Linked DNA regions of Homo sapiens: regions 2 and 3 are each linked to region 1. Evidence: fine-mapped expression QTL. A gene starts in region 1. Each other region holds a variant in brackets. All regions are shown on one strand. Distances are between the middles of the regions.

The links.
Region 2: its variant is fine-mapped to the expression of FCRLA in whole blood (TOPMed, PIP 0.90).
Region 3: its variant is fine-mapped to the expression of FCRLA in whole blood (TOPMed, PIP 0.96).

What each region holds. Positions count from the first base shown.
Region 1 is chr1:161,701,692-161,709,549 of GRCh38, reverse strand. It overlaps FCRLA (Fc receptor like A), which reads right to left and starts at 2,321. Exons shown (of 5, transcript NM_032738.4): 1 at 2,207-2,321. The coding sequence starts at 2,285. RefSeq lists enhancers at 1,846-2,025, 3,566-3,785.
Region 2 is chr1:161,676,817-161,682,918 of GRCh38, reverse strand. It overlaps FCGR2B (Fc gamma receptor IIb), which reads right to left. Exons shown (of 8, transcript NM_001394477.1): 7 at 5,554-5,591; 8 at 4,265-5,443. The coding sequence ends at 5,366. Among named protein-coding and RNA genes, the nearest start is that of FCGR2B, 17 kb to the right of the region's middle. The variant C/G (reference allele first, on the strand shown) is at 3,474.
Region 3 is chr1:161,645,837-161,656,441 of GRCh38, reverse strand. It overlaps a transcript of FCGR2B not described here. Among named protein-coding and RNA genes, the nearest start is that of FCGR2B, 12 kb to the left of the region's middle. RefSeq lists a silencer at 8,948-9,007. The variant A/T (reference allele first, on the strand shown) is at 6,143.

The DNA.
Region 1 (7,858 bases):
TTTCTTTCCATCCTTTCTCCGCTCCCTTCACTGTAATGCTACCTCTTTTCAGTTCCTCCACTGTCACTCATCTGTGCTCTGCCTCCTCTCCATTTTTTCTTTTTAAAAATAAAATCTTATCCAGGCGTGGTGGCTCATGCTTATAATCACAGCACTTTGGGAGGTTGAGGTGGGAGGATCCCTTGAGCCCAGGAGTTTGAGACCAGCCTGGGGAACATAGAGAGACCCTGTCTCAACAAATAATTTTTTAAAAAATTGGCCAGGCCTGGTGGCACTTGCCTGTGGTCCCAGCTACTTGGGAGGCTGAGATAGGACGATTGCTTAAGCCCAAGAGGTCAAGGTTGCAGTGAGCAGTGATTGCACCACTGCACTCCAGCCTGGGTGGCAGAGCGAGACCCTGTCTCAAAACATAAAATAAAATAAAATAAAATCTTGTTGGGTTACTGGGAACTCACTCAATAAACCTTAGGTGGTAGGTATTATTATTTTCATTCTACAAATGAGAAAACTGAACCAGAAATAGAAAAAGTGATTTTCTAAAGTGACATAGAGCTGGTAAATAGAAGAGGGGCTTGAAACAGGAGTATCTGATTCCAAGTCTGCAGTTCTTATCACAAGACAAAAACAAAAAAACATTGTCACTACCCACAAATAGCTCTCAATTTAGTGGAAGACACAGGTAGATGAAAATATTATTTCAGCATAAGTAGGAAAATATTATAATAAGAAAAATGTATCGCAAGCAGCCATTGGAGCAGAAAGAAGCATTCAAGAAAAGCTACCTGGAAAAGATACCATTTAAGCTGAGTCTTTAGGGGTACCTACACATTTGCAAGGAGAAGGAGAGTAGGGTGCCATGGAAAGAACTCATTTCAGGTAGAGATAGTGGTATAAGCAAAGCCTTAGAGACAGGCAAGAGTCTGGTGTGTGAGTATGTAAATATGAACTGATTGAGATTTATTAGAGCATAAGTTACAAGGCTGAGAGGGTAAAAGTAGAGGCTGCTTGGCCTTTTGTGCCATGATAAAGAATTTGGGCTGGTAAACTTGAGTTTTAGAAATTACTCTGTCTGCAGGGTACAGAATTCATTTCAAGAACACAAGGTTTGGACGAGGAGATTAGTTAGGAATTTACTGGAATAGCCCAAGTCATAGAGGATGAGGGCTTGTCCTAAGACATTAGTGATGATCCAGGCAAGGGACTGCTTCTATGAACAATTTAGAAGGTAAAATTGGCCAAACCTAATGATTGATCAGATTTAGAGAATGAAAAAGAAGGAAGAGTCTGGGTTGTTTCTGAGGTTTATGGCCTTGTAAGGGTAGATGCTGGTGTCATTAGCTGAGATCAGAAAGTGGAAAATGAATTAGATGAGGCAGGGGCCAAAAGGACAGATAAGTTCAACTCTAGTCACATGGTGCAGAGACACTTGTGAGATATGTAGGTAGATATGTCTGGTATGAAGCTTGATATTTGAATGTGAAGCTCAAAAGCATGGTTAGGGTTGGGGATATGATTTGGGACTCTTAAATACAGAGTTATAGTGGCAAAAATTAAACAGACAAATAAGCTCATGAAGGAGATTGTGTAAAGAAAGAGGAGTACAGAGGCAAGGCTATAACTATAGAGAACACTAGTGTTTAAGGGGAAGAGAAGAGAAGCTATTAAGGGATCAAGAGAAGTCCATGTAGTACAAGGAGAAAATGGTGCCATGGAAGCCAGGGTAGTAGAGAATGCAAGAAGGAGTAAGTGATCAACAGAGCCCAGTGCAGCAGAGAAGTCCAGCAGGATATGAACTGAAAAGCATGCCATAACCCAGTCAATATAGAGATCGTTGTGCCCTAGACAAAACCAATTCCAGTGGAAGCCAGGCTGCAAGCATTGAGGAGCGTGTGAGAAGTGAGGAAGTGGAGATAGCAAGTGCAAACTATTCTTTTAAGAAAACTTGTCTCACAAGTGAAAGAAAAGAGTTGAGATTAGAGCTAGAGAGGATATCATGATCAGAGGGGACTTTCAGGATGGAAGATTTTTATATTCAGAAAGTAATTCAATCCTGTACACCAAACTTTCTTATACCTACCCTTCTTATTCCACCTGAATACTGCTTCTTTGGAGGGCCAGAATTAGTCCATGTTTCTTTCCTTCTGGTCCTTTCTCCCAAGGTAAGCAAAGCTCCATTCCCACACCAATATTCAAATATTTTACTTACCCAGTAGCATCTGGGCCACCCAGAGCACACCAAGGGAAAGGTAGAGGGCCCAGGCCATGAGGACACAGCCCAGCTTCATGGTGACTGTGTTTAGGTCTCCTGCAACCCCAACACTGATTTTCTTCAACATGAAACCTCTCAGATTAGAAAAGAGGAAGTAAATTTAACTGTCTCATCTCCTTGCATCTGGGGTCTGTTTTCATTTTCTAGTTTGTAATTGGCTTTCATCATTCAGATTTGGCCAACACGCTTTCAGCATCATCTGCACCCTTAGGGCTATGACAAAATGGTAGCACTCTCAGCTGTTCAAGAATTTACTCACAGAGCTCAGGGGCCTGTCAAAGCATGTCATTGTCTGATAGCCAGCTGGCCTTCATGTACACTCTGGGAAAGGTCAGTGCAACAACCACCCTTTTCACTGGTGATGCAACTGGGGACAGAAGGTGGGATGTTGTTTGAAGGCCAATAGAAAATCACTGGAGAATCAATGATGAGAATTCAAATGTCCTGCCCATTCCAACACTTATATGTTTCTAGTGACTAGAAGGTAGCGAGACAGAGAAGGAAGATTAGTCACGGCACCAAGTTAGATATCAGATTAGTCTCTAGTAGGCTCTGACTATCCAAAGCCCACACAAATTTGCATGCAAATTTCTCTAGACTCGTGTCAGCTCTCTATTTCTGGAGCATGACTAAGTCTGCTCAGTCTCAGTGGAAATATGAGTACAAGGCAGGGAGAATCCACTGGGAAAGAGTAGAGGAAAAAGAAAATCTATTCCCAGAGGATCCAGCAGTCAGCTCAGGGCTTAGGCTCATAGCCAAAGCTCAGGCCACTGATCCTGAGGAAATTAGAGATAGGAGGCATCCGATATCTTGAGAAACCTGAGGAGACTCAGGAATAGGAGCAATATAGAGGCTACAGCCTCTCCCTTCCGTTCCAGATGGCCTCCTGGGAACCATTGTCCCTGCCTCTGAATGTTTGCTATTTGTTTGAGGCCTACTTAATGGTAGGGCCCATGTGTCTTTTCACAGTGGCCACATTCCTCCCCTTTCTGTCATCATAACACCCACCAGGCCTCCAGTAGGTTATTTGGAGATGAAATGAGCCATCAGAAATGGGGTAAGGTAGGCCAGGCACTGTGGCTCATGCCTCTGTAATCCCAGCACTTTGGGAGGCCAGGGTGGGCGGATCACTGGACTGGAGGTCAGGAGTTCAAGACCAGCCTGGCCAGTATGGTGAAACCCCATCTCTACTGAAAAAAAAAAAAAAAAATTAGATGGGCATGGTGGTGCATGGCTGTAGTCCCAGTTACTTCAGAGGCTGAGGCATGAGTATCATTTGAACCCAGGAGGCAGAAGTTGCAGTGAGCCAAGATTGCACCACTGCACTCTAGTGTGGGTGACAGAGCGAGACTCCATCTCACAAAAAAAAAAAAAAAGAGAGAGAGAGAAATGGGGGAAGGTAGTTTGGTCCTCCTTGAAGGCAGAGAGAGGGACAGTATGACCCTTCAACTGTGCAAAAACCACAGGTCAGAGCAGACATATCAACCACACGGGCATAAGAGAGTGGATCTTTCTGAGTCTAAAATAAGCATTTAGAATAAAATTTCCATTATCGAGAGGCATACGCTTCTGTGCAGGTGGCCCCAGGGAGTCCAGGGGTGGTTGAATATGGGTGCTGGGGAAGGCAGTGAGGCAGTAAGCCTTGCAGCTGATGTGATGTGAAGCCTCAGAAGAGGAAGAAAAGCCTAGCTAGCCTTAATAATTTTTTTTTTTTTTTGAGATGGAGTCTCTGTTGCCCAGGCTTGAGTGCAGTAGCGCGATCTCGGCTCACTGCAACCTCTGCCTCCAGGGTTCAAGCCATTCTCCTGCCTCAGCCTCCCGAGTAGCTGAGACTACAGGAGCGTGCCATCACGCCCGGCTAATTTTTTGAATTTTTAGTAGAGATGGGGTTTCACCCTGTTAGCCAGGATGGTCTTGATCTTCTGACCTCGTGATCTGCCCACCTCGGCCTCCCAAAGTGCTGGATTACAGGTGTACGAATTAAACAAATAAAATGTGTTTAGATGCATCGCCACTCCTAAAACTACATAAAACATAGACCCTCAGGGTTAGGCAGAGGCTAAGGGGCTTCTAAACAAATCATGATATCTTTCTCTTCTTATGTCACCCTTTCTCCTTTACTGTCCTTACCATAGCATCTTACCTGGATAGAGACCCTCCCCTATACCATCTGCAGCAATCCTTGCAGGACCCCACTGTCAATATGGAAGGCAAGGGGCCTTCTGAAGATTTGGGGTGAAGCTATCAAGTTCTTTACACTGAAATTTCCATTAAGCTGCTGGGAAAATTTACTCGCTTGAAGCTTAATCAATGAACTATTTAGAATAGATGTGATTCACTGCGAGGAAAAAGCAACATTGGGTCTGCTGTTTGTTCATGGAGACTGAGATTCGGTTTATTGAGTAAGTTCCTCCATCAGGATCACCTCAGAATACTCAGGGGGAGATGGGACAAATCCCAGCTCTCATCCCATCCCAAGACCAATTAGGTGGTGGATGCCCTCCTTTGCCATTCCTGGCTTGTCACTAGTGGACTAATGCTTATCTCTTCTTTATTTTTAATTGAGTAGATAAAAATATTTATTAAAAATGTGAAGGTGTAAAAAATAATGCAGTGTATACTTTTGAAACCTTATATGGTTGAAGGAACAGACTAGTACTGTTATCCTTGAAGTACTGCATAGATCCCTGTCCGATTACACTGTCTTCCCTCCCCACCATCATCAACCACAATCTTTACCTTATATTTATCACTCTCTTTATTTTATGTAGTAATCATTTTGTATTTTTGAACTTTTAGTAAGTGGAATTGTACTGTATTTATCATTCTAAGGCTTTCTCTATTTTTTTTTTTTGAGATGGAGTCTCACTCTGTTGAGTGAGTGCAGTATGTTTGATCTCAGCTCACTGAAACCTCCACCTCCCGGGTTTAAGCGACTCTTCTGCCTCAGCCTCCCGAGTAGCTGAGTAGCTGGGACTACAGGCGTGTGCCACCACACCCGGCTAACTTTTGTATTTTTAGTAGAGACGGGGTTTCACCATATTGGCCAGGCTGGTCTCGAACTCCTGACCTCATGATCCACCTGCCTCGGCTTCCCAAAGTGCTGGGATTACAGGGGTGAGCCACCTTGCCCAGCCAACTTGCTTTCGTTTAACTCAACTGAAATACAACCTGATGTTCTGTGTAGCTATAGTTAACTAATTGTATTGCTGTGAAGTATTTCATCATGTGATCATGTCACAAATTATTCTATTGACAATGGACATGTGAGTTATTTTCAGGTTTTTGCTGTCAAAAACCATGCATCTATTCATGTACATAATTTGTTATTATAAGAGTTTCTCGAAGGTACATATATGAATGGAATTTTCTTATTGACTTTTAAGAGATTGTATATGTCCTAAACATAAATTTTTTGTCAGTCATATTTGTTACAAATATTTTTCAATTTATGGCTTGTCTTTTCATTTTGTGTTTGTAAAATCACTTTATTGAGAAATAATGACATACGCTAAATGCACATCTTTAAATTGTACAATTTGATGAATTTTAACAAAAGTGTGTACCTATGAAAACATGACCACAATCAAGATAATAAGCAGATGAATTACTCCTGAAAATTTACTTGTGCACTTTTGTAATCCCTTCCTCTCTATCCACCTTCTCCAGGCAACCACTAATCTGTTTTGTGTCATGATAAGTTTTCTATAGTTTACTGAGATTTTACATAGATGAAATCATACAGCATGTGCTCTTTTTGTCTGTCTTCTTTCATTCAGTATAATTATTTTCAGATTAGTCCATGTTGTTGTGTCTATCAACAGTTCTTTCCATTTTATTGCAGAGTAATATTCCACTACATGACTGTACCACACTTTGTTTATCCATTCACCTATTGTTTGATATTTGGGATGCTTCCAGTTACGGCTACTACAAATAAAGGTACTATAAACTTTCATGTACAAGTTGTATGGACACAGGCTTTCATTTATCTTGGGTACCTAGCAGTGGACTGGCTGGATCATATAGGTGTAGGTGTATTTTTAGGTAGTTTTTTAAATTTTATGTAGGTAATTTAATTTTTCTTTAAAAATTAAAAATATTTAATTTTTTAAGAAAATGCCAAGCTGTTTTCCAAATTGGTTGTATTAGCCAGGGCTCTTCAGAGAAACAGAATTAATATATGCATACAAGGAAACACAGGAATTGACTCAGGCAATTTTAGAGGCAGACAAATCCCACCCTCTGCTATCAACAAGCTGGAGAACCAACAAAACCAATGGTGTAATTCAGTTCAAGTCCAAAGGCCTGACAATCAGTGGAGTCAATAAGTCTCAGTCCAAGTCTGAAGACTCAGAACCAAGAGGGCTGGTGTCTGAGGGCAGTTAATGTCCCAGCTCAATCAGAGAGATCAAATTTGCCCTATCTCCATCTTTTTGTTTTATTCAGGCCCTGAGTGGTGGGATCATGCCCACATGCATTTGTGAGGACAGATCTTTATTCACTCTTCCAATTCAAATGCTAATCTCTTCCATAAATATTCCTTTTTTTTTTTTTTTTTTTTTTTCCCAGACAGAGTCTCACTCTGTCACCCAGGCTGGAGTGCAAAGCCGTGATCTCGGCTCACTGCAACTTCCACCTCCTGGGTTCAAGCAATTCTCCTGCTTCAGCCACCCAAGTAGCCGGGATTGAAGGCGCCCGCCACCAACCCTGGCTAATTTTTGTACTTTTCAGTAGAGACAGGGTTTCACCATGTTGGCCAGGCTGGTCTCGAACTGCTGACCTCAGGTGATCCATCTGCCTTGGCCTCCCAAAGTGCCAGGATCACAGGCGTGAGCCACTGCGCCCAGCCCTCTTCCGTAAACATTCTCACAGACACAGCCAGACATAGTGTTTTACCAGCAGTCTGAGCGTCTCTTAATCCAGTCATGTTGACACATAGTTAACCATTACAATGGTTGAACCATTTTACAATCCCACCAGCAGTGTATGAGAGCTCCAGTTGCTAGACAGCCTCAATGATGCTTGGTATGGTCAGTCTTTTTACTTTTAGCAATTCTAACTGGTGTTTCCTACAGCTCATTGGTTTTAATTTGCATTTCTCTAATGAATAAGGATGTTTATTTTTTCATGTATTTATTTACTAACTGCATATATATTTTGGGGTAGAATCAATTCAAATCTTTTGCCAGTGTTTAAAAACTGGGTTGTTTTCTTATTGAGTTGAGGTTTTTTAAAAAAAAATTCTAGATATGTGTCCTTTGTTAGATAGATGTTCTGCAAATATTTTCTCTCAGTCTGTGACTTGTGTTGTCATTTTCTTATCATTATCTTTTAAAAAACAATCTTTGTGTGAGTGTGTGTGTGTGACGGGGTCTTGCTCTGTTTCCCAAGGCGGAGTGCAGTGGCATGATCATGGCTCACTGCCACTTCAACCTCCTGGGCTCAAGTGATCCTCCCACCTCAGCCTCCTGATTAGCTGGGACCACATATATACACAACTACACCTGTTTTTTTTTTTTTTTTTTAGAGACGGAATCTCACTATGTTACCCAGGCTAGTCTTGAGCTCCTGGGCTCAAGTGGTCCT
Region 2 (6,102 bases), 26 kb after region 1:
TGTTTAGAAACAACAATGACAGGGATACATATATCTCAAAATCTAATGGGTGTGGTCAAAATGGCAGAAGAGGAAAAGGTATAGCCTTTTGTGAATCTATTTCAAAACAAGAAGTTTAGAAATTAATGAATAATACAGTAAATATAAATGAAATCTAAGAAAGAAATAATACATTAGAAAACAAGCAAAAGGCAAAGTACTTGAGCCAGAAGTCAAAAGCTGATACAAGACTAATAAAGCAAACCTTTGGTAAGTCTGATTAGGATGAACAAAGAGATAGTGTCAGGATGGGTGACTCTCCAAATGATTAAGCTAAGTGAATTATGGTCATCTCAGTCCCCTTTCTCGTGATGGTTTTAAGAATGAGCATGTGACCCAGTCGTGACCAATATGATATGATGGGAAGATGGTTGCAGAACTTCTGAGAAAATGTTCCTCATTGTCAAAAAGAGACACAAGGCCAGGCACAGTGGCTCACGCCTATAATCCCAGCACTTTGGGAGGCCGAGGCAGGTGGATCACCTGAGGTCAGGAGTTTGAGACCAGCCTGGCTGGTCTCTACTAAAAAATACAAAAATTATCTGGGTGTGGTGGCGCATGCCTTAATCCCAGCTATTCAGGAGGCTGAGGCAGGAAAATTGCTTGAACCCAGAAGGCAGAGATTGCAGTAAATGGAAATTGCGCCACTGCAACTCTGTCTCAAAAAAAAAAAAAAAAAAAAAAAAGGCTACACATAAAAGGAATAGTTAGTCCCTTTCTTTCTATAGTGGTCTGGGTATGATGCTGCTTAGAACCGTTATAATCATCTTGCTGCTAGCTCAAGGGCAGTGCTCACAGAATTGTAGAAAAGTGGACCAAGAGTTCTGATGTGCTAGAAACTGTCTGTCTCTGGACTTTTTGTTATGTGAGATAATACATTTCCTTAATGTTTAAGCCAATTTGAATCACGATTTCCTGTTATTTCCAACTGAAGTCATCCTAACTGATAAAAGAAAGAAAACCCAAAACCTAGGAATGAGAGGAGGGACATAAACACAAACACACAACTTATTACCAAAAAATAGGGGAAAAGTGCGATGTACCACTGCATACCAATAAAATGGATGATTCCTAGGAAAGCAAAAGTTTTCAAAATTGACTCCCGAGAGAGAGAAAATCATAACCAGACCAAAAATGACAGAAAGAAAAGTCTGTCAAAGATCTGTCACAAAAAAATGTGCCAAGCTCATATGATATTATAGGAAAATTCTGTAAGTCTGAATGAATGAAGAGTTGTAACTTAGGAAGCCTCAATATGACACAGATGTCAAACCTTACCCAAATAATCTATAAATGCAATGCAATTCTACCAATATCATAATAGTGTTATGGAATTCTTAAGTACATCTGGAAGAGAAGCAGCACATTAGTAGCCAAGAAAACCTTGAAACAAAAGAATGAGAGAAAACTTGACCTTCTATATATCAAAGTACACTATAAAGTTGCAATAACTAAAAATGTGGTATTGATGCAGAAATAGACAAATAGAACAATGTAATAGAAGAGAGGCTAAAAATAGACCTATGAGTGGGAATTTAGGTGATAAATTAGGATTTCAAATTATTAAACTGTTCAACAAATGATATTGGAACAACTGACTTTCATATGGAAAAATTATATTAGGTTCTCACCTTACACCAAGTCCAAAAATAAGTTCCAAATATAGTAAAGATCTATTTAAAGCATTTAAGAGTTTTAGATAAATATAATATTATTTCATTCGTTAACTCATTCAATAAATAGTGATTGCATTGTTCTAGTCTCTGGAATACACCAGTGAATAATACAAACATCCTGCCCAGAGTGAGCTTACATTTTAGAACTTGTAAGTAAATATTTAAGCAAAAAAATGCATGATTACATACAGTGATAGATACCATGAAGGAAATAAGAGCAGAGGAATAGCAGTAGGGGAAGTGCAGTCAGGGATGTCCTTCCTGAAGAGGATATTTGAAAGAACTCATCAAACTCTACCGAGCATGCTCAAACAAAGTGCTTATTTAAAAGTATAGCAAGAGAAAGAAAGTCTAGGCAATTACTGGGAGTCCAAGAGATTCCATGTGCAAGCTCCCTAGCATCCTTATAGTTACCGTAACTTATTTACGCTTTTTGTCTGGATTAAACCACCGGGATCCATACAAGGAATCTTGGCTATGGGAGAGCTCAAAGCAGAAGTTCCTAGAGGGATTTTTATGCCCCCTCTGGCTACGTAATCATGCCAACTATCTAAATGGCTTATTGAAAAACTATCAGTAAAGAAACTGACCCTGGGGATCAGGAGTCAAGTTTCAGACTTTAGGTAGCATGTCAGGGCCAGGCACCGTGGCTCACACCTGTAATCCCACCACTTTGGGAGGCTAAGTGGGGAGGATCGCCTGAGGCTCACAGTTTGAGATCAGCCTAGACAACATAGCAAAACCCCGTCTCTACAAACTATTTTTTTTTTTTTTGAGACCGAGTCTCTCTCTGTTCCCCAGGCTGGAGTGCAATGGCATGATCTCGGCTCACTGCAACCTTCGCCTCCCAGGTTCAAGCAATTCTCGTGCCTCAGCTTCCCAAGTAGCTGGGACTAAACAGTCATGAGCCACCACACCCAGCTAATTTTTGTATTTTCAGCAGAGATGGAGCTTCACCGTTTTAGCCAGGCTGGTCTTGAACTCCTGACCTCAGGTGATCCACCCACCTTTGCCTCCCAAAGTGCTGGGATTACAGGCATGAGCCACCGCGCCCAGCCAAAAAGTTCTTTTTTTTTTTTTTTTTTTTGAGACGGAGTCTCTGTCGCCCAGGCTGGAGTGCAGTGGTGCAATCTTGGCTCACTACAAGCTCTGCCTCCCGGGTTCACGCCTTCTCCTGCCTCAGCCTCCCGAGTAGCTGGGATACAGGCACCCGCCACCAAGCCCAGCTAATTTTTTTTTTTTTGTATTTTTTTTAGTAGAGACGGGGTTCCACTGTGTTAGCCAGGATGGTCTCGATCTCCTGACATCATGATCCACCCGCCTCGGCCTCCCAAAGTGCTGGGATTACAGGCGTGAGCCACCATGCCCGGCCAAAAAATTCTTAAAAATTAGCCAGGTGTGGTAGTCCCAGCTACTAGGAAGGCTGAGGTGGGAAGACCACTTGAGCCCAGGAGTTTGAGGCTGCAATGAGCTGTGATCCTGCCACTGCACTCCAGCCTGGACTACAACCCTATCTCTTAAAAAAAAAAAAAAAAGAAAGAAAGAAAAGGGAAGAGGATAGAGGGAACTGATGACAAAATGGAACTTCTACTTTTTACTCCTTATCTTTCTGTATTATTTGGGCTTACATGCTTACAATGAGCATACATTTTTGCCTGAGTGTATTTATTAACATGTAAAATATATGATATGATCCAATTTTTTTTTTTTTTTGAGACAGAGTTTCACTCTTGTTGCCCAGGCTGAAGTGCAATGGTG[C/G]GATCTCAGCTCGCTGCAACCTCTGCTTCCCAGGTTCAAGCGATTCTCCTGTCTCAGCCTCTCGAGTAGCTGGGATTAGATCCAATTTTTAAAACACAAATACACACTGCCACAGACAGGAATATGGATTGATATCCTTAAATGTTAGCATTAATTATTTCTGGTTTATGGATTTATGGGCGATCTAATTTTTTTGTTTTCCCTATCTGTATCTTAATTTTATAAAAAGAATACATTATTAGTGTAGTGAAATAATTTACATATAAATAAAAGGAAATAAGTTACTACTATGCAATTTATAAATAAAGGGACATACATTGTATCTACAAAAATGGGCAAAGAATAAATACACAGGAAACTCACAAAAGAGGAAATATAAAAGGCTAATCGTAAATTCTCTAAATTCTAAAGCATATAGTTTGGCACAAACTATATGGCACAAAGTAAGTCCTTAATAACGCAGTAATTTTAATTATTATCCCTTATTACTAAAACAATAAGTGTGTATGAAATCTGATTGTGGGACCATAAAAAGTGAGTACTTTTTATCCTACCATAAAAAGTGCAACAAATGTTGCACGATGTTACTGCGTAGAGTCCCAGGAAAATGAAGCCTCTCCAAGGGCACTCACCAAACCCTCAAGGAGACTGCCAGTCATGTTTCTAATCTGCCTGAGATGACTTCTCTGAGAAGGTCACATCCTTCTGGTAACTACATTGGGAGAATAGCAGAGCAGGACATGTCAGCAATCTCCACTCAGGGCTCATCTGAAGTTTGACTTCCCGTGAACTTGTGTTGCAAAACAGTGTTTTATTTGCCATAGGAGGAAAGAGAAGAAGACATGGAAACAAGAATACAAGGTCATTGGCAGAAGAGTACAGTCATGCATTGTTGAAATATGGGGATACATTTTGAGAAATGCAGGCAATTTTGTTGTGTGAACATCATAGCAGGTACTTATACAAACCTAAATGGTGTGGCCTACTACACACCTAGGCTGTAGCGTATAGCCTATTGCCCCTAGGCTACAAACCTGTACAGCATGCTACTGTACTGAATACTTTAGGCAATTGTAACACAATGGTAAGTACTCATATATCTAAACATAGGAATAGAAAAGGTACAATAGAAATATGGTATTATAATTTTATGGGATCACCATCATATATGCAGTCTGTTGTTGAACTAAACATCATTATGTGGTGCGTGACTGTATTCAGTTTTAAGAAAAGGGGCACTCACTCTACATTCTAAATCCCCATCTCTCCTCTCCTCCCCCTATCCTATCCATTCCTGCCTTCCTAAGAGTCTCATCACTGAAGAGAAACAGACCCCAGGCAGTTCAGTCTACACTCCAACCAATACAGCCTTGAAAAGGTAAACAGAATGTTGTTTTTATAATGTTTTATTATAAAAGTAATATATGATCTTTATAGAAAAATAAAGAAAATAAAAATCATCAATAATTTTATCACCCAGAAACAATCACTTTTAATGTGCTGGTAGAGGTTAGTCTATTTTAACATTTCTGAAATCATATAGATTTACATGATTGTTCTCACGTAACCTGTAACATAAGCATTTCCCAAGTTGCTATTATCTGTTAATAACAGTGGTTTGATTAATTGGATTGGCTGTGTGGATGTGGAACGGAAGAGCCTTGATGTCAAGAAGAGCTGAAGCACAGAAGGTGCAGTCGGTTATTTGGGACCATATTGTCTGTGGCTTTCAGGACAGGGAGCTTCAGGACTCAGGTAGATGACTCTGGAAGAAACCTTCTCTTTTGGAACTGCAGCATCTCCCTGTCCTCCCCAAGGGGAATTTAGGCCAGGAAATACCAGATCTTCCCTCTCTGATTTTCTTCTCAAATCCCAATGCAAGACAATGGAGACTAAATACGGTTCTGGTCATCAGGCTCTTCCAGAGCATCCGGGTGCATGAGAAGTGAATAGGTGATTGTGTTCTCAGCCTAGAGAAGGCAGAAACCAGCAGTAAGGATCCACAGAGAGGGCCTAGGAAAGAAGGCAACAGAAAAGGCAACAGGGGAGAAGGGAGGGGGAGATGGCTGGGATCACTCACCCCAACTTTGTCAGCCTCATCAGGATTAGTGGGATTGGCTGTGGGAAAAAGAAGAAATATCAGCCAGAGCACTGCTGGAGAAGAGGGCCTGCCTGTGCTGATGCTGAGGCTGCAAAACCAACGCCCAAACTAGAGCCAAAGCAAGCACTGCTGACCCTGTCTTGGGCCTCTAGGCCAAGCACTGGGTAAATATGACCTCATTGATCGATGCATAGGGTAGCCCAGCCACAGCCTTCCGCAAAGGCCAAGGTGAAAAAGTGGAGCAGTCACTTGAGCTGCATTCTTTTCAGGGAATTGCTGAGCTTTCCTAGAAGCAAACCAGGGAGGCTTGGGATCTGAGATATTGGGGAAGAGGTGGGGGAGGGGGGTGTTCAGCATCAGAGTGAAGTAAAGTCCAGATTTTTGCTGGCCACAGACTTCAGGGAGAGAAGGCTGAGGGCCATTTCCACATTGTCTAAATGTAGTGCATCTTTGTTGGAACTTTGAAAAATATGGTACTCCATGGCATTAAAAAGAAAGAGAGAGTGAGTGAGAAAGGGAGGAAGGGAG
Region 3 (10,605 bases), 54 kb after region 1:
TTCTGAGCAGGAAAGCAATAACTCATGGGGATCAACTAGTGACTGATTTACTCAACCCATATGCAGTGCTCTAACCCAATGTTGACTCTGCTAGGTAAGAAAGATGGGGTGGGGATGGATGGGAGGAAGAAATGAAGAAATGAGAAGAACAGTGGTCTCTGTCCTGAGGAACCCTCATTACAATGGGAAAGATAGGATACATGCAGGAGACAGATATAAAAACAATACAAACCTATCCTGTGCTTCACCTGAATTAGAGCAGAAAGTCGTAGAATTAAAAATTGAGGCTGGGCACGACGCCTGATGCCTGTAATCCCAGCACTTTGGGAGGCCGAGGCAGGTGGATCACCTCAGCTCAGGAGTTTGAGACCAGCCTGGCCAACATGGTGAAACCCCATCTCTACTAAAAATACAAAAAATTAGCCAGGGGTTGTGGCACGTGCCTGTAATCCCAACTATTTGGAAGGCTGAGACAGGAGAATTGCTTGAACCCGGGAGGTGGAGGTTGTAGTGAGCCGAGATCACGCCATTGCACTCCTGCCTGGGTGACAGAGTAAGCGACTCAGTCTCAAAATAAATAAATAAATAAATAAATAAAAATTGAGGAAAAGTGTGAGTGTTAGAAGAAACAATTGATTATAGAGCCAAAATATCTAATCAGAAAGATTGTGATTTCAGACATATCTGCATAATCTCTCTTCTTTACCTCCTCCCCCTGTAGCCCACTATCACCCTGCATTGACAGCCAAGAGCTGAGAGCCCCCGGAGCTGATCAGATTTCACTAGCAATCACAGCACACAACTTGGATGAGTGGCAATATGCTTTCCTCTAGAATGTGAAGGTGGAAGGCCCAAGAATCGAGCTTGGAGTGATAGTCCTGGCAGTAGGTCTCCCCTACTTGGCCTCCCATAGGCTTTTCCAACCACCCAGCATGATCGGTCCCTGTCCCCTGTCCAACAGCTGAGAATATGGTCAGAAAAGAGCCCTCCAATTTGAAGGGTAGTTCTGAATATTAAGGTACTTCTGAATAGTAAGAAGTAATAACATAAATATATGAAGAATATAGTAGCTCAGAGAAACAGGCTTGCACCATGAAGGGTTAGGACAGTCATAAAATGGAAATCATGTTTATATGAGAAACAACATAGCCTCAAGGGAAACAAAAGCCAGTATCAGGCTTTGGTGAAAACTTAGAACAAGGAGAGATTGTAAACTAACCAGAGGTGTGAAGAGCAAATAGCAGAGCCTACCTACATAGCACAACTCCTGCCTGCATGGCCATCAGGACACAGTCAGTGCCGACCTCAAGGACACTTTTGATGATAACTTTTAAAACATACCATTTTACTTTCTGCTTTTTAGATTATCAAGTCATGTGAGAAACAGATAACTTCATCTAATTTCTGTGCTTAAATTCATTATGCCCTGCCATTCTGGTGATTTTTCATTTTGGACTTGGCCATTTTGATTTGTGGTATAAAAACAGCTGTGAAAACCAGCCTCATTAAAATGTTTTCATTAGAAACACCCCCCAAAAAAACCTGTATTAATTAGAAACACCTGAAAAAAAACAGATAATACACAAAGTGATAACTTTTCTTGAACCCATCAGAGTGCTGAGGTAGTGAGGCAACCAAATACCCTGAAATCTAAGAAAAGACAGGTGTTTCTAAAGAGGGCTAGGATATGAGCACAGGCTCACCTGTAAGACAGCGTGGAAGGAAGGCAGGGCTACCATTCAAATGGGTTAGAAGAATTCAGCTAAAATTTTTAATAAATCGCTGAAAGCCAGATGTGGCCAAGAACTGAGAGCTCATGATACAAGGGCCATTCCTACGCATTTGAAGCATCTTCATGGGCCTCCACCAGAGCTCATGAAAAGCTTGTGGCCAGGGAATACATACCTAGGTAATGGAGCAGCCATCATTCTGGGAAAGGCATGAAGCCCACCTGAATCCTTTTTTCTAAGGAACAAATGTCTTAAATCACTGGAAGAAGGGCCCAGGGCACAGGAAAAGAGCCCATTACACCTGGAGGAAAGGAACAGGAAAAAACAACAACAACAACAACAAAAAACAAACATCTCTCTACCCTTGGGGAAGGGGCTGGAAACCATCCCGAGCCTAGATGATTACAGGTCTTCTACCATTGGGTGAGATCTAGGATCACTGAAAAAGCCCTGTCCTCAAGATCCAGGGACAGAAGGCCCGACTAAAACTGAGGCGGGACTAGAACAGCTGTCACAGCCCCACACGTTCTTCTTAGCCACTGCCCTGAAAAAATCAATAAGAACAGCGGCTATTGCAGCAAAGAAAGAGTTTAATAATCACAGGGCCAGCCATGTGAAGAGAGCAAGCAGCAATTTCTCAAACACATCTCCCTGACAATTCAGAGACTAAGGTTTTTCATGGGTACTTTGGTGGGCAGGAGGCTTGGAAACTGGAACAATCGATTGGCTGGGGATGAAATTACAGGGGTGTCTAAAGCTGTCTTCACGCAGCCAAGTCAGTTCCCAGGAGTGGGTGGATCTCAGGACCTAGTGGCGTCTCTTGGTCTACTGAAATGTTGAATCTGAAAAATACCTCGAAGACTCGTTCTTCAGGGTTCACAATAGTGATGTTATCTATAGGAGTAGTTGGGGAAGTTATAAATTTTGCAATCCCCGGTTACGTGACTCTGGTGCAGTAAGCAACATGCTACTGTAAGGACACATGGAAAGCAAGGAAGTGAGGAAGACACACTAAGCAATGGCAGGTCATTGTTTAACTGAGTCTATTCTTCAGCAAAGTTAAAGTCCCTACCGTATTTTAACCTTGTCTTATGAATGCAGTTTCAATCTTGAACAAGGAGGGAGATCAGTTTCCCTTGACTCAAAGTTTAACTATAAACGTCACTCATAGCTATTTTGACCTCCATGCTAGAATAAGAAAAAAAAAACTCGCCTGTGGGTTAGAAGCAGGATGGAGTCAGTCATGTTAGATTTCTCTCTTTATTCGTTTATTTTTTATTTTTATTTATTTATTTATTTATTTATTGAGATGGAGTCTTGCTCTGTCACCCAGGCTGGAGTGCAGTGGTGGGATCTTGGCTCACTGCAAACTCTGCCTCCCTGGTTCAAGCAATTCTCCACCTGCCTCAGCCTCCCAAGTAACTGGGATTACAGGTGCCTGCCACCATGCCCAGCTAATTTTGTATTTTTAGTAGACACTGGATTTCACCATCTTGGCCAGGCTGGTCTCGAACTTCTGACCTCAGGTGATCCACCTGCCTCAGCTTCCCAAAGTGCTGGGATTACAAACATGAGCCACCACGCCCAGCCAGATTTCTCTCCTTATTTATATATATATTCTGCAAAGGCAATTTCACAACAGATAAACCTCTGCCCTACCTCCCAGCCTAGCAAGTACTGAATAAGAAGCAAAAGTACTCTGCCACTGAAGAGAGAATCTCTGAGGTGCAGGCACATACTTTAGAAAGTCCTAAAGTTGGGGTAGTGCAGGAAAATTGAGAAAATACCATCCGGGAATACCGGTGTCTCTTGGTCTACTGAAATGCTGCCTCCACCCAAGCACAAGATAACACTAGAAGAATTTGAAGGTAACTATGGCAATAATAAAACCCGAACCCAGCTCAACTCTTGACTAGATTGGCCCACACTAAGAGCTTACCAGAATAAGAGGGGTGCTCATTTCCAATCATAAATGCAATTTACCTCAGTCCCTACTGTCCTACATATAATGTCCAGAATTCAATAAAAACAATGAGCCAACACAGAAAAGCAAGGTTTAAAAATCCTGTCAACAGACAATGCAAGCAATAGAAACTGCTAAAAGATGATTCAGATGTTGGTACTATCAAATAGGGAATTTTAAAATCAAACCATTAATTACAACCATACTTAACATGTTAAAGGCTCTAGTGGAAAAGGTAGACAACATACATAAACAGATGGGGAATTTCAGCAGAAAGATAGAAACTATATGAAGAGTCAAATGGAAATGTTAGCAAATTTTGAAACAGAGTAAAAGAGAAGAGGAATGTATTTGACAGGGTCATCAGTAGATGCCATACAGCTGAGAAAAAAAAAAATCAGTACTTTGAAAATGGGTTCATAGAAATTACCCAAACTTAAATTCAAGGAGTAAAAAAAAAGAAAATAGAACAGAACACCCAAGAACTGTGGGACAATGTAAACTGGCCTAACATATATGTAATTGAAATCCCAGAGAATAGAGAAAGAATGGGAGAGAAGAAACATTTAAAGAGAAAATGGCCAACAATTTTTCAAAAATAATGGAAGTTATTAAACCACAGATCCAAGAAGGACAAAGAAGCATAGGCAGACTAAAATACACACACACACACACACACACACACACACACACACACACACACTCCTAAACATATCATATTTAAACTGCTGAAAATCACAGATAGAGCATTATTAAAATGCCCATAGATCTTTATTTTATTTTATTTTATTTTATTTTATTTTATTTCAGTTTTTGAGATGGAGTTTCGCTCTTGTTGCCCAGGCTGGAGTGCAATGGCACAATCTCAGCTCACCACAACCTCTGCCTCCTGGGTTCAAGCAATTCTCCTGCCTCACCCTCCCAATTAGCTGGGATTACAGGCATGCGCCATCACGACTGGCTAATTTTGTGTTTTTAGTAGAGATGGGGTTTCTCCATGTTGTCAGACTGGTCTCAACTCCCGACCTCAGGTGATCCACCCCCCTCGGCCTCCCAAAGTGCCAGGATTACAGGTGTGAGCCACTGCGCCCGGCCAGATCTTTATTTTAAAAATTTTGATTGGAGAGCTAGGATGCCAGTGCCACCACTCTAGCCAGCCACAAAGGAGATAATCAGAAGTTATATTGGCGGAAATGTCAAAATATCTAAATCTTTCTCTTGGCCAACTAAACTGGCTGGAAGATTTTAAAAGAAAAGTTTTCTAAGATATGAAGATAAGCAAAAGAAGAGTACAGAGCCTAGTTTCTAATGCACGATAATACTTTGCTTCCAAAATAAACGGGAACCCAGACCTTGTTTTCTGATCTTCCCTTCAAGACCAAAACCTCAGGCCATCTCCTCATCTGCAGTTTTCCTTATCTCTCCCTTGGCAGAAGAAGTCATTTTTCTTTCTGAATCTCAAAGTTTTCTTCCCCGAGTTGTCCTAAATGTTGCATTGGGCCCTATCACTGGAAATGCCTTTTTTACTCTAAGCCCAGGGAGAACTCAGAATTCTCTCACTTCTCTAAGAAGTGATTTATGAACCCCAGGGGCACTATGCAGTCTTTTACGATGTACCCTTGCAGTTTGCAGGGCCAAAATACTCTGAAGTCATTCACCATCTGTTTCATCACGACTTACCAGGGTTCCCCTCCTGGTGTCCCTCTGATGACTCCCCTTACTCTCCCTGAACACTCCTCTGTCTTCACCTGTCCATTAAATATTGGTGTTTGTTCAGCTTTCTGTCCTCTACATAATTCTCTATCAATAATTTTCTAAGTGAGAAGAGACCCCCTCAAAGGGTGCATCAGAACTGGAGGGGGAAGGAGAGGTAGAGGTGTAATTTTAAAAGCCTTTTTAGCATTATAATACAATTTAATACTTGTAAACTTGACAAACTAGATATGAAAATTAAGATAAAATTAAACAAAGTATGTTTATGTTCAAAGAGGTTGAAAATGAACTTTAAAGGGCTAAGAAACGTGATCCTGCATATGTCTTACTACTTCTAAATGATTTTATCTACATTCTTGGCTTCCTCTACACCAGTGGTTCTCAACAGAGTTGGTTTTGCCCCCCGCTCCCAGGGGACATTTGCCAATGTTTGGAGACACTTTTGGCTATTACAACTGGAGAGGGCTTCCCCTGGCATCTATTGAGTGGAGGCCAAGAAAGCTGCTAAATGTCCTCCAGTGGAGAGCATAGCCCCCCACAACAAAGAATTATCTGGCCCCCTGTGTCAATAATGCTGAGAATGAGAGCCTTGCTTCACTCCCTATATGCTGATGACTCCTCAGTCTTTATCTCCGGCCAACACTTTTCTACTTAACTCTAGAAAGATACATTAATATATTTATCATATATAATATATATAATATAATGATAGCTACCTACTAGGCATTTCCACTTC[A/T]AAACTTTTTTTTGGCAGGGCACAGTGGCTCATGCCTGTAATCCCAGAACTATGGGAGGCCAAGGATGTCAGGAGTTTGAGACCAGCCTGGCCAACTTGGCAAAACCCCATCTCTACTAAAAATACAAAAATTAGCCAGGCATGGTGGCGTGTAGTCCCAGCAACTCAGGAGGCTGAAGCAGGAGAATCACTTGAACCTGAGAGATGGAGGGTGCAGTGAACAGAGATCATGCCACTGCACTCCAGCTTGGGCAACAGAGTGAGACTCTGTCTAAAAAATAAAACACACATACGCATATTTTTTTTTCTAAAACAAAATTCACTTATTTCTCCCAAATGTACTCTTCTTTCTCTAAGATCTACTAAGACAAAATCCTTCAAATTAATGTATCTACCATTCCCATCCAATCAATAAAGTTCTTGCACGTTTCTTTTCCTCTTGCCAATTACTAGCAGTAGAAAACCTTCAGGCAAGTCATTTAATTTCCCCATGCCTTGGTTTTCTCAACCATAAAATAGGAATAATAATAGTACAACGGCCTCCTAGTTATAAACAACACAAGTTTATTTCTTATAGCTCTAGAAGCTGCGAAGTGCAAGATCAAGGTGCCAGCAGACTCTTTGGTGAGAGGTCGCTCTCTGCTTCTTAGATGGTAGCTTCCGTGTCCTTTAATGGCAGAAGGGCTGAAACAAGCCTTTAACTAGTCATCCTGCCTCAGTCTTGCTCCGTTCCAATTCATCTTTCATAGGGTTTTCAAAAAGATTTATCAATTGTTCATGAAAAGATGTCATTTAGTGGTCACTTGCACCCTGCTAAACTTCTGCCACCATCACAATGAAGATGACAGCAGGGTAGAGTTGTATCATGGTGAGAAATGAACTTCCATTCTTTGTGCTGAAATGGCTCAAGAAATTTTCAGCCCTCTTCTGCAAAACTTTTCTTTTAAAGAGGTAAAAGGTAACGGATTTACCTATGGAAATTGACCTGACATTCATATTATTGGCAGTGATTTTGATAGCATGCAAAAAAGTAAAAGAGGAGTTTCATAACACTTCTACTTTCAATCCTCTTCCTTTGACACTAACTGCTTTCCTCATTAATATTACGGTTGTATCTGAGTTGGCTTATGAGCCTTCTGAAAGTGATGTGTCAGAAATTACTACTGAGATGGTGAAAAGGTATTTAGAGTTCCATTTTTTAGGTTAGAGGTTGTAATGTCTAAAAGGTTTTCTGTAGAATGCATTATTAACTTGTTTTAGAAGAGTCATGCTTCAGTGACCTTCATAACTGTATTCATTAATCTCCCAAATATACATTACAGATTTTCTCAAATAATACAAAATATATTTTTGGTATAATCATTATTGAAATATAATATTAAAAAAAGTTCCAGCCTGACAAACATGATGAAATTCCATCTCTATTAAATAAAAATTAAAAAATTAGTCAGGCATGCTGGTGTGTGCCTGTAGTCCCATCTACTCTGGAGGCTGAGGCATGAGAATCACTTGAACCTGGAACATAGAGGTTACAATGAGCCAAGCTTGCGCCACTGTACTCCAGCCTGGGCGACAGAGCAAAACTCTGCCTCAAAAAAAAGAAAGAAAAAATTAAGACATCATTTGAAAAGTTAGTAGGAAAGCCACAGAGTAGGAGGAATATTTGTAATAGGTATATTTGACAAAAGACATATCTAAAATACATAAAAAACTATTAAAAATCAATGAGAAGATAAGCTAATTCGTAAGTGTGCAAAAGCCTTAAACAGAAACATCATAAAAAAGGATATCCAAATGACCAAATAAGCACATAAAAAGATAATAAGTCACTACTTATCAGGGAAACGCACATTAAAAACACAATATCACTGTATACCCACCTGGGTGGCTAAAGTTTAAAAGATTAACAAGACCATGATATACCTCAATTAAAAACAAACAAGAAAATCTCAAATTGCCTAATAGGTTAGATCACCACCCTACTCAAAATTCTTCAATGATTTTACATTGCTTTCAGGATGATATTAAACCCTTCAAAGTGACATTCAAACACTTCGGGATGGCACATAGCATCTGAGAGTGTATGTAATATCACAGCTGCCCCACGGCACAGGATGCTATGTGCCATACTGAAGATTCCAGCACCTAGAGTCTTGAGGTATATTGCGGTCTTGTCAGATTCTGCCCAATCCTATTCTTAACTTCCCCAAGCTTGCCATGCTATTGCCATGTTTGAGCCCATGCTGCTTTCTGTGAACAAAGCTATCTTCCCAACTCATACTTATCCTTCAAGATCAAACTCCTTCTCCATAAAGCCTTCCATGAGTTACACATAGCTAAACTGTTGTTCACAAGACGAAGGGTCGTCTACGAGTCGCTGACTCTCCGGGATCTGCCCTACTTTCACAAGGACATGCCCCATTTATGAACACACGAAGCACAGTGTGCCATATTTTGGGTACCTTGACCTGAGGAGAATGTTGTAAATGGATTTGTTTTATTTCTTCTGGGCTTAGAAATGTAAACTGTTTGCTGTTCTCTACTGCCCTCTGTTGAAACAAAAGTGGACAATATACATCTCTTCTGCAGGACGAAGGAATCCAGTTTACAAGGAAATGAAAGAGAGATCTGAGTGGTTTAATGCAAGAAACAGCCAACTAATGGTCTAGGGGAGTGAAATTAAGAGTCCAGAGCAGGCCGGGCACAGTGGCTCACACCTCTAATGCTAGCACTTTAGGAGGCCGAGGCGGTGGGGGGAATCACCTGAGGTCAGGAGTTCAAGACCAGCCTGGCCAACATGGCAAAACCCTGTCCCTACTAAAAGTACAAAAATTAGACGGGCATGCTGGTGGGTGCCTGTAGTCCCAGCTACTCAGGAGGCTGAGGCAGGAGAATTGCTTGAACCCGGCAGGCGGGGGTTGCAGTGAGCCGAAATCACACTACTGCACTCCAGCCTGGGTGACAAGAGCGAGACTCAATCTCAAAAAAAAAAAAAAAAAAAAGAGTCCAGAGCAAAGAGAACCCGGGGCTGCACTTACCTTAAGCCACTTGGTCTGCTCTTCTGATTGAATGTCTCTTGACCTCAGCATGACTTCAGACAGTGGTACTCAGAAAGAAAGGCTTGATTCATTCATCCGCACTCTGGCTTTAGACCCTTAGTGAGGAGGGTGGCATTTGAAGTTGTAGTAGAAAACTAGGAGTTAGATTCTAACACCTACGGTCTGCAACGCAAATGCGTTGGAACCTCCCCATCAGGCCTGTTTTGCCCTTTAACTGTATCAAGTGCATGTGTCTCCAGCAAGGGTAAAATTCAGGAGGGTGGGAACTTGGTCCTAAGCCAAACATGCTGAAGGATGCTGGAAAATGGTCCTGGGGAAGGTTGAAGCCATCCTCCTTAGTAGCAAGTAAATACTTGACAAGAACATTTGAAGAACTGTGAATGAGGCTCTAACCAATTCAAACTTGCCTCCTTGTCACTGGAAATAGACCTGCTGCAAGGTATCAGCAAATAAGGAGTCATCTCTTTGGCTTCCAGTTAATTTTCTAAAAGCACAATTCAGCTCCAGTCTGTGTCTCTAGCTCTAGCCCAGATTTCTCCTTCCAGTTACCCAGCTGATATTGACCACTCTCCTGCTATGTCCACAGGCACCTCAAACGCAGAATATCCAAACCTGAACTTACCATCTCTCCCCAACCCCTTCCAGCTAAGCTTCTTTCCATCATATTCCCCACCTCAGGGAATGGCACCTCCTAAAGCAGGAATCTGGATATCATTGTGATTCCCACATTCTCTTTCATAACCCACATCCAATTGTGCCGGTTCTTCTTGCTAAATATCTCAACCCCACCACCATTACCTTAGCCTGAGGCTATCTTCATCTGCCACCATGACTACCGCAAGAGACCAACTCATCTTTCTGCTCCCAGTCTTACTCCTCCAGCCTATTTACAAGCAGCAACCAGAGTAATTTTGTTAAAGTACAAATTATATTATGTCACTTTCCTGCTTCAAATAATTCAGTGGCTCCCCACACCCTCACGACAAAACCCAAACTCCTTAATGTGTTCTGTAAAGCACTGTGATACCAAAAACCATTTACTCCACTGCAGCTTCATCACACTGTCCTACTCTCCTCATACTCAGAATACAACAAACTCTGCTCTAGGGGAGACTCTTTGATCTCAGTATAGACATTTTCTACGCTAGAGGCCTGTTCTGGCATCCTACGATTGAAAGGTTCAAGAATATTTAGCCATTTCTATCTTTAAGGTGCTTCTGCCTTGATTTTAAGTACTAATCAGAAAGGAAAGATACATGGAAAAAAGTCAGCAATGTAAAATAAATGGTTTAAGCACTTCACATTTTTATGTCACTTATTTTATATCTCTTTTTGTTGGGTTCTAAGGAGAGTTGTAAAGAGAGTCAAAAAGCAGGGAGCTAAAAGGCATTAGTAAGCCCCTCG